Linked DNA regions of Homo sapiens. The protein of the gene in region 1 purifies or fractionates together with the protein of each later gene. This does not show direct contact. Each region holds a gene or a part of one and is shown in the gene's direction. Other genes may lie near its edges. The genes, in order: ZNF695, RTCA and PIGR.

Evidence for each region.
Region 2: the proteins of ZNF695 (region 1) and RTCA purify together in Homo sapiens (affinity purification with mass spectrometry; one large-scale study listed by BioGRID and IntAct). This does not show direct contact.
Region 3: the proteins of ZNF695 (region 1) and PIGR purify together in Homo sapiens (affinity purification with mass spectrometry; one large-scale study listed by BioGRID and IntAct). This does not show direct contact.

What each region holds. Positions count from the first base shown.
Region 1 is NC_000001.11:246,984,823-246,988,096, reverse strand, and holds the end of ZNF695 (zinc finger protein 695), read left to right. Parts: coding exon 1-1,130; 3' UTR 1,131-2,774; downstream 2,775-3,274. UniProt on the Homo sapiens protein: May be involved in transcriptional regulation.
Region 2 is NC_000001.11:100,264,604-100,268,359, forward strand, and holds the start of RTCA (RNA 3'-terminal phosphate cyclase), read left to right. Parts: upstream 1-1,612; 5' UTR 1,613-1,772; coding exon 1,773-1,817; intron 1,818-1,920; coding exon 1,921-2,021; intron 2,022-2,896; coding exon of another isoform or gene 2,897-2,935; intron 2,936-3,548; coding exon 3,549-3,692; intron 3,693-3,756.
Region 3 is NC_000001.11:206,936,418-206,940,073, reverse strand, and holds part of PIGR (polymeric immunoglobulin receptor precursor), read left to right. Parts: intron 1-610; coding exon 611-955; intron 956-2,322; coding exon 2,323-2,979; intron 2,980-3,656.

The sequences.
Region 1 (3,274 bases):
GTTATAATGGACTTGACCTATGCTCAGCAACTACTCATAGCAAAAACTTTCAATGCAATAAATGTGTGAAAGGTTTTAGTAAATTTGCAAATCTAAATAAATGTAAGATAAGCCATACTGGAGAAAAACCATTCAAATGCAAAGAATGTGGCAATGTCTCTTGCATGTCTTTAATAATGACTCAACAGCAGAGAATCCATATTGGAGAGAACCCGTACCAATGTAAAAAATGTGGCAAAGCCTTTAATGAGTGCTCATGCTTTACTGACTGTAAGAGAATTCATGTTGGAGAGAAACATTGCAAATGTGAAGAATGTAATAACATTTTTAAGTCTTGCTCAAGTCTTGCTGTTGTTGAGAAAAATCATACTGAAAAGAAAACCTACAGATGTGAAGAATGTGGCAAAGCTTTTAACCTGTGCTCAGTTCTTACTAAACATAAGAAAATTCATACTGGAGAGAAACCATACAAATGTGAAGAATGTGGCAAATCCTTTAAGTTGTTCCCATACCTTACTCAACACAAGAGAATTCATAGTAGAGAGAAACCCTACAAGTGTGAAGAATGTGGCAAAGTCTTTAAATTGTTGTCATACCTTACTCAACATAGAAGAATTCATACTGGAGAGAAAACCTTCCGATGTGAAGAATGTGGAAAAGCCTTTAACCAGAGCTCACATCTGACTGAACATAGGAGAATTCATACTGGTGAGAAACCATACAAATGTGAGGAATGTGGCAAAGCTTTTACCTGGTTCTCATACCTTATTCAGCATAAGAGAATTCATACTGGGCAGAAACCCTACAAATGTGAGGAATGTGGCAAAGCTTTTACCTGGTTTTCATACCTTACTCAACATAAGAGAATTCATACTGGAGAGAAACCCTACAAATGTGATGAATGTGGCAAAGCTTTTAACTGGTTTTCATATCTTACTAATCATAAGAGAATTCATACTGGAGAGAAACCCTACAAATGTGAAGAATGTGGCAAAGCCTTTGGCCAGAGCTCACACCTTTCTAAACATAAGACAATTCATACCAGAGAGAAACCATACAAGTGTGAGGAATGTGGCAAAGCCTTTAACCACTCTGCACAACTTGCTGTACATGAGAAAACTCATACCTGAGAAAAACCCTACAATTCTAAACAATATGGCATAGTCTTTAATACCTATTCACAACTTCACAGCAGAATATTTTTACTGAATAAGAGTGTTACAAATGTAATGACTGTCAAAAGGCCATTTACAGTCTATGAGCCTTTGAGTGCACTAAAATGTTTAGGCTACGAACAATACAAATAGACCGGTTCAACACCTCCACTTATATCACAGCTCTTACTGTACACAGAAGAATTTATACTGGAGGGAAACCCTCCAGTTGCTCAAACTGTATTCAATTTCAAAGACTTTGTATTGGAGAGAAACCCTACAAATGTAATAAATGCAGAAACAACATTTGTTCAAAAAATATACCTCAGAAAACACCAGAGTGTTCACACTAAAAACTGTTTTACAGATGCAGTAAATGTGAAAAAATGTCTAATCAAAAATTACATCAAAACACATCCAAGAATTCATAGTAAAAAGCACTAAGTCACTGACACTTTCAGACATTACTGTAAATCTGAGTGTTGGTTATAGAGAATAATTCAAAGTTAAGTTAAAGTAAGTAGGAGATTCACCTTTTGGGGAAGTTATAATTACATTTCAAGTATACCTTTTGGTGCCAGGCACGGTGGCTCTTTCCTATAGTTGCTGCACTTTTGGATGCCGAGGTCGGGGGATTGCTTGAGCCCAGGAGTTTGGGACCAGGCTGGGCAACATGGCAAAACCTCATCTCTACAAAAAGTAAAATAAAAGCCAGGCTTGGTGGCACATGCCTGTTGTCCCAGCTACTTGGAAGGCTCAGGTGGGAGGATTGCTTGAGCCTGGAGGTTGAGGATGCAGTGAGCTGCTATCTGGCAACTTCACTCCTGCCTGGGCAACAGAGCAAGACCCTTTCTCAATAATAATAATAACAACATAATAATAAAGTATACTCGGTGCACTGAAAGAGTTTTAGCTTTTTTGAAAATCACATATTTATGTAATTCAAGTCTTAAATCACTTGATACCATGCCTTCATTTCTAGTGTTTATGTGAAGGCATGAGGCCTACTGTTGCTACATGAAAGCTGTGAGAGTTTCTTCTATATTCGGGTGGGTGTTGTTCATATCCTTTTCTTTGGAAGATTATGGACATTGCATTGTAAGCTTCCTGAAGAAATTTAACTGGAGAGGCTCTTTGTACTTGTCTTATAATAGGGTTGTAAGTGATTCATGAGATAGGTCTTCAGAGTACTATTCTGCATTATATTTAAGAAAGAAACATTTGAGTTTTACAAGTCAGTTGTTTTTCCTATTGCACATTAAGGTAATAAAATTCAGTGGATTTTGAAATGCTCTTTTTAGACTGTTTGAACTTAATTTGTTTTAATAAGACATTGTTTTAATGTCTTTGGACCGTTGTACATTAAGTGATGCGTATCCTACCACCAACGTTAACCTATCTCACCTTAGTTACGGTTGTAGGTAACAAATGGTAACAATACAATAGTGGGTAACATGGTGGAATAGTATCTCTAATGATCCCTTCTCCCAGTGGCATTAAACTTCAAATAATTTGAAAAATATTGTTCCCACACGTTACACCTTCATTCTGTTTGCTCTTTTTGTAATGACAGTGTCATTATTAAGGCTATAATAAAGCCTATATAGGATTATAATCAAAGACCGTGTATTTCTGAATCTTGAAGGACTATTCACAAAATTTTATTTACATTTTCCTTTTAACATGTGGCTTTTCTGGCCTGCAAAACATATACATGCTTTTAGTTTTGGTTTACATGGAGATAAATACATAAATATACTACTCTAAGGATAAATGTTAGGTGTAAGACAGTTATGAAGCAAGTAATGTGTTTGAAGTAAGTGCATACCTGTTTTCAGAATAAGAGAAAAATGTTGGAACCAAACATAATTTCAAAAGTATGGATAATTTATTAGCAAACTAGAAACCTCAAAAATGTCGAAGGCAAATCTGTTTTCTCTGCTTTGTATTGAAGGCATTTCTCTAAAATCTTATTTTGCAGAATTTCCACATGAAATTCCTGTTTTTACTTTTATGTTGCTCATGCTAGAGCTAACGTATAATTTTCTTGTTCCAAAATTCATGAAGAATTTCTTATGTGATCTTCTCAGGGATTATAATAATGATTTTATGAAACTTAT
Region 2 (3,756 bases), about 150 Mb from region 1:
CTTTTGAAGCATGTGATCTTTGTACTTTTGTACCTACTCCCTGTTCTTACACCCCCTCCCCTTTTGAAACCCTTAATAAAAACTTGCTGGTCTGAGACTCAGGCGGGCATCATGGTCCTACCGATATGTGATGTCACCCCCGGTGGCTCAGCTGTAAAATTCCTCTCTTTATACTGTCTCTCTTTATTTCTCAGCTGGCCAACACTTATGGAAAATAGAAAGAACCTACGTTGAAATATTGGGGGCGGGTTCCCCCAATAAAGATGTCAGATAGGGGTACAGCTTTTTTATATTCCATCCCTACCATCATTGCCTTACTTCAACTTCTGATTATTTCTTGCTGGATAATTGTATCATTGGCATTTCTCCCTTCAGGCTCTTAAGCCTCTTATTCACCCTTCTCCTACTGCCAAAGCCTTCATTTTAAAATGCAAGTATCATTACTTCTCTGATTAATATCTTACGGCAAATTCCAGATTTGGTTAAGTACATAGTCTGTGTGTTCCCTAAAACATTCTCTGTCGCAAAGCAGCAGAGCGTTGGGATTACCAGACAGTGGTGTTCACATCAGACCACCCAGGTTCACATCTCAGTCTTCTAGTTAAAATTGTGTGACCTTGTAGCAAATTGTTTAACACAGGAAGCTGTAAAACAGTAAAAACAGTAAGTACTTTATCATGTTATGAATGCATGCAGTGCACAACACCTAAGTGCTCAATAAGTGTTGCCTGTTATTGTTACAGTATATTATTAATATATTGTAATTGTCCCCATAATAAACTCTAAATACAGTACATGTTAATTATTATTGAGGATGACATTGTAATTGATTACGTCTCAGTCTCTCCATTATACCTCCAATAACTTCGGGGGTAGAAGCTGAATTACTCTTTTTTGCTTCCCTAGAGGTTTACATATTATTTGGTACTCAATTATGTAGGAACTGAGCCACAGGCAGAACCAAGAAGCTGGCTATTGCTTCTGCCCTCGCCTGAGGTGAATTGTTAGCTGCACTGTTCCTGGGAGTCAAGAGCTTGCACTCACTCTCAAGCAAAATGGCATAACTTTGGCTTTTCAGAATATTAAACTAGTGATTCTGCCTTTCCCGCCTCTCAAATAAATGGTGTGTCACCCTAGAAAGAAAGATAACACACTCCGCATACACAAACACGCACACCGCAAGGAACCAAAGGCCAAGAGTATCAATGTACCAGGGCGCACACACTTCGAGAGACAGGTTCGGTGCATCGCAGGATCCCAATCTTTCTTGCATCTTCAGCTCTAAAAGTCGGCACCTCGGGGTATGCCAGGATCCTCGAGAAAACAGATATAAACACATATTTACCCACAAAACAGAGATAAAGCACAAGCCTGCGGGATAACTGGAGGAGTTATCTTACAGTTGAGACTTTCTGCAACCTGCAGATTTTGCCGTGCCCAGGGCACAAGTTTTTCAGGGCTCCTGGGCACCCCCGCGACCGTCATCTCACTTCCCCGGCAGCTTCCTCGCCCCGACCGCAGTGTTCCCAGCGCGGCTCCTTTAAGCCGAGCTACGCGCATGCGCACTGACTGCGGAACTGGGCGAACCCGGGGGTTCGTTTCTGCTGACTCCAGTGTCCCGAGAGGCGCCGCTTCTTCCGCTTTCTCGTCAGGCTCCTGCGCCCCAGGCATGAACCAAGGTTTCTGAACTACTGGGCGGGAGCCAACGTCTCTTCTTTCTCCCGCTCTGGCGGAGGCTTTGTCGCTGCGGGCTGGGCCCCAGGGTGTCCCCCATGGCGGGGCCGCGGGTGGAGGTCGATGGCAGCATCATGGAAGGGGTGAGTACAGAGCGAAGCGGCCGGGGCTGCAGCCTAACTAAGGAGGGGAGCTCTCACCACCGGTGTGCTTACTTCTCTTCTCCCTGTACCCCAACCTTTGCAGGGCGGCCAGATCCTGAGAGTCTCTACGGCCTTGAGCTGTCTCCTAGGCCTCCCCTTGCGGGTGCAGAAGATCCGAGCCGGCCGGAGCACGCCAGGCCTGAGGTAAATCTGGCTGGAGGGGGAGTTGGGCCGTGAAGCTGGGGGATCGGGGGGTCGGGCTGCCGGGCTGGGGCATCGGGAGTCCGAGTGGTGGAACCCAGAAGGTCCCAGACGCAGGTATGGGCGATCCAGGGCGGGGCACTCTGCCTGGGCGGTGGCCTGGGTTGTAAAGTCTTGAAAGCCTGGAGGGGTGAGTTTAGAAATGGTCTCGAGTTTTCTCTGTTTGACTAAATAGTGTCATTTGCTGAAGAGCTAGCTTTTAAAATGTTTTCTCACCTCACCGGGCATTCCAAATATCCGAACAGCACGTATGAGCTGGCAAGATAGATAGGGCAGAAATGCTTGTGACGCCAGAGGAAACCCTGTTTTATAACCAGTGCATTCTGGTTCTGCTGTCAGTTTTAGAATCATAAAACAGGAAAGAATCCTGAGATGTGTTATCCCAGCCTTCATTCATACCTCCAGAGAGCTGTTATGACCAGAATTATCTGTTGTGGAGAGGGAAACACCTTGACATTTGACCTTATTTCTTCTGTCTGGGTAGCTGGGCATGCCACTAGTTGAGCTTCAGGTACATGCACCTGCTAGAAGAGGACCCAGGTTTGAAGCCACACTGATTGCTTTGTATGTATTCTGTATTTATTACATTTTAATAAATCAGCGGTCTCAGTCTTTTGTCTACAGTTTTGAAATTACCAAAAGGCAATTACTGATATGTTAATGTTAATTGCCTTTGTCATAGTTTGCAGCCCTCCAGTTCACCAACAGGGGAATCCAATTCATTAGGCTGTAGGTGTTGTATTAGTTTGCTAGGGCTGCCATAACAAAATGCCACACACAGAGTGGAGCTTAAACAACAGAAATTTATTTCCTCACAGTTCTGGAGGCTGGAAGTCCAAGATCAAGGTCCTGACAAGGTTGGTTTCCTCTGAGAGCCATGAGAAAAGGATCTGCTCCAGGCCTGTCTTTTTGCCTCTTCACATGGTGGTTCCTCTGTGTACCTTGCCCCTAGCGTCTCTGTATGTTCTAGTTTTTTTTTTTTTTATAAGGACACCAGTAAGATTGTATGGTGGCCTTATTTTAACTTAATTATCTCTTTAAAGGCTCTATCTCCAAATATAGTCACATTCTGAGATACGGAGGGTTACAGTCTCAGCATATTAATTTAGGGGGAACATAGTTCAGCCCATACAGGCACCATAGATTGTTCAGTCAAGTGCAAGCGAGACTGGTGGCACTGAAATAACTATTAGTTTTCTTCTTTAGCACACTTCTAATTTGCAGCAATATATCAGGGTATGTATTTATAGTCAGAAATAACTGGTCTGCAAGGAAGTGTTAAAATGATACATACTAGCAGGTAGTCTAGGTGCATAAAAACCCAAAAGGAAGCTGACACTGAAGATGTGGCACTTACTGTGGTTAGACCTTGCTGTTTTCTTGCCATTGCAGTTTTATAAATTTGTCATAAAATGTGGGGATGTAGGCAGTCTGAATGCACACGTTTTGATGCAGTATTATGACCTGAAGGCCTCAACATTTATCTGGACTGGAAATGATTCGAGATTTGTGTGATGGGCAACTGGAGGGGGCAGAAATTGGCTCAACAGAAATAACCTTTACACCAGAGAAGATCAAAGGTGGAATCCACACAGCAGATACCAAGACAGCAGGGTATGTATCACTTAACATTCCATTTAAGTAACCTGGGTTTAAGTCCAGGTTTTGCCACTTTCTG
Region 3 (3,656 bases), about 40 Mb from region 1:
GTGCAAACATGTAACACCTTACGAAAGTGGTGTTATTGTTTGAAAAAACAATGGATGGCTGGATGCTGGCTCACAGCTGTAATGCCAGCACTTTGGGAGGCCAAGGAGGGTGGATTGCTTGAGGTCAGTAGCTCAAGACCAGCCTGGCCAACATGGAGAAACCTTGTCTCTACTAAATAGAAACCAAAATTAGCTAGCATGCACCTGTAGTCCCAACTACTTGGGAGGCTGAGGCATGAGAATCGCTTGAACCTGGGAAGCGGAGGTTGCAGTGAGCCGAGATCGTGCCACTGCACACCAGCCTGGGCGACAGAGAGAGACTTTGTCTCAAAACAATAAAAATATATAAAATAAAAAACAAGGGTTATCATAAATTTGTCATTCCCTTGTCCTTGAAATGGTTATCATTAATGAATAACAATTCCAATTTAATCATGATTAAAACAGTCACTTTATTTAATCTCAGCAATTTTCCAGCTGTGATATATGATAAATTATCAACACAGGGCCTACGTGTCAGGTAGAAAACCACATCTACTCATAGTGGGTTATCTGGAACAGGCTTTACCTCCCAAGGGCCTCAGAAAGCCTCTCTCTTCTGTTCCCACAGCCATCTCCACGAAGAGTCCCATATTTGGTCCCGAGGAGGTGAATAGTGTGGAAGGTAACTCAGTGTCCATCACGTGCTACTACCCACCCACCTCTGTCAACCGGCACACCCGGAAGTACTGGTGCCGGCAGGGAGCTAGAGGTGGCTGCATAACCCTCATCTCCTCGGAGGGCTACGTCTCCAGCAAATATGCAGGCAGGGCTAACCTCACCAACTTCCCGGAGAACGGCACATTTGTGGTGAACATTGCCCAGCTGAGCCAGGATGACTCCGGGCGCTACAAGTGTGGCCTGGGCATCAATAGCCGAGGCCTGTCCTTTGATGTCAGCCTGGAGGTCAGCCAGGGTAAGGATCCAAGCTCCTTGGGCTTCTGGGGGAAAGTTAGAGGGAATTCTCTAAGGTGCATGGAGGGCTTGAGGAGGAACTTCCTGACAAGGATGTGTAGCCGGGTTGGGGGTCAGAAGGCACCCCTTTCCCCAGGCAAAGACTTCTTTAACAGGAGAAGGAGACAGATAGGGCCTACTTGGGGGTGATGAGTGAACCCTTCTAGGACTTGGTGGCCTATAACATTTTAGGCTTTCTGGAGACCCCAGCTTAGAAGGGTATCAGAAGGACAAGTTTTCTGGTGTTTGCTACAGGTAGAAAGGGAAATCTGACATCAGGCTAAGGAGATAGAAAAGGTAGGGAGAGATTTACAGGGATCCTTAAATTCCTATCATTAATGCACCTTTCCATCAAGGTTTGGGCCGCCAAAAGGCTTCTTGTAAAATGCATATTTTTTTTTTAACCTGGGAACCCTTAGTCTTTTGGTATTATCAGGGTAAATTAGATTATTAGATCTTGACCAAAGACCAAGATCCTGAAAGGATGGGTTGCTAACAAGCCTATTCTAGTTGGAGAAAGAGAAAAAAAGAAAAGCTCTTTCTGACAAGGGTTTAACAATGAGGCTGTTTTAGATAGTCAAGGGCAACTCAAAAGAGAGGTCTACGGAGAAAAGAAATTCAGGGGGACTCCCAAAGACATGTCTTGCTCCTTTGGAATATGCATACTATTGTCTGTGGACTAAATGAGGAGGTCATTTAGGTGGGGATCAAGATTCAAAACCACAGAATCTTTAGAGGTGAAGAGGGCTTAGAGTTCACCCTAACCGGACACTTAGAAGAACATGCTGATGACGGGTATGCAGCCTCTGATTAAGCACTTTAGCAGAAACTCACTGCTCCCTGAGACAGCCCATTTCACATTTAGACTCTTGTAATTTTTAGAAACTTCTATTGTATGCGTTGAAATCCATCACCCTGCATTTACATTCATTCTGTTCATTTCAGCACACATTAATTTGGCCACCTACTACCCAGAGGCATTGTGCTTGTCACAGCAGAGGGGTCAAACATGAGAAAAACATGTTCCAGCCTTCAAGGAACTTCCAGTCCATGGAGAACATAATTACCCATACACCAGATTGGATGTAATAAGTGATGCAGATGTATCAAGAAAGCACAGGGCAGGGAGAGATTAGTGTTAGCTTGGGAAAGGTTTCATGGAGAAGACCGCTGTCAAGCTGGGCCTTCCGACAGCATTCCTCTGGGAAGGAGGGCATTCCAGGTTATAAGTCCACCCACACCCTAACTAGGAATAGCAAATAGTCCTATGTTGCAAGAAAGTAGAATCGTAACTTGCCTGCCCCCTACCTTGCACCCCTCATCCTGCAGGTCCTGGGCTCCTAAATGACACTAAAGTCTACACAGTGGACCTGGGCAGAACGGTGACCATCAACTGCCCTTTCAAGACTGAGAATGCTCAAAAGAGGAAGTCCTTGTACAAGCAGATAGGCCTGTACCCTGTGCTGGTCATCGACTCCAGTGGTTATGTAAATCCCAACTATACAGGAAGAATACGCCTTGATATTCAGGGTACTGGCCAGTTACTGTTCAGCGTTGTCATCAACCAACTCAGGCTCAGCGATGCTGGGCAGTATCTCTGCCAGGCTGGGGATGATTCCAATAGTAATAAGAAGAATGCTGACCTCCAAGTGCTAAAGCCCGAGCCCGAGCTGGTTTATGAAGACCTGAGGGGCTCAGTGACCTTCCACTGTGCCCTGGGCCCTGAGGTGGCAAACGTGGCCAAATTTCTGTGCCGACAGAGCAGTGGGGAAAACTGTGACGTGGTCGTCAACACCCTGGGGAAGAGGGCCCCAGCCTTTGAGGGCAGGATCCTGCTCAACCCCCAGGACAAGGATGGCTCATTCAGTGTGGTGATCACAGGCCTGAGGAAGGAGGATGCAGGGCGCTACCTGTGTGGAGCCCATTCGGATGGTCAGCTGCAGGAAGGCTCGCCTATCCAGGCCTGGCAACTCTTCGTCAATGAGGGTAAGACCCTAGAGAGGGAGGGGGAGTAGGTGGGGCAGTCTCGCAGGTGAGAGCCAAGCTCAGCTCCCTCTGAGTGTATTCATCAATAGTCATCAATCAGCCAACAGCATCCACTCAATGACCAGCCCCGAACTGGAGGCTGCGTGGGCTGCTGCACAGGACAGCAAGAAAAAGCAACCTCTGCCTGATGGCAGCTCCTAATTACTCTTCTGTTATCAAAGTCATTTTGATGGCTGTCCCTGCTTAACAAGCAAGAGGTGAGTAAAGCTCTTGATTGAGGCAGGACTTATAGACTGTGTTTCAGGGCTGTGGCAGGCTCTGCAGGGGTCCTCTGTCCCCTCCCCTGGCCCCTGAACAAGATGGGTGCCTCATCCCTCACATTCAGATGGAAAAAGGATTGGCTTATCTTGGTCTCAATGCGTTCCCAGGAGTGCCCCAGCCTCTAAATGTTTCACTGTCACATTTCGTAGGGTTATTTGTGAATTTCAGCACCATCTGGCCCACTCAGCCCTACTCCAGTGAGCCATCAGCATGGTGAAAGAATTAAATCCCAGCTCCTTCTCATCCCAGAGCACCCTGCATAGAGTTGCCCTCGTGAGAAGCAGCAAACCAGTACTTGCAGTTCCAAGTATCTGTGCTTGTGACTTTTTTTTTTTAAAGGGGCTTATATTCTCTGC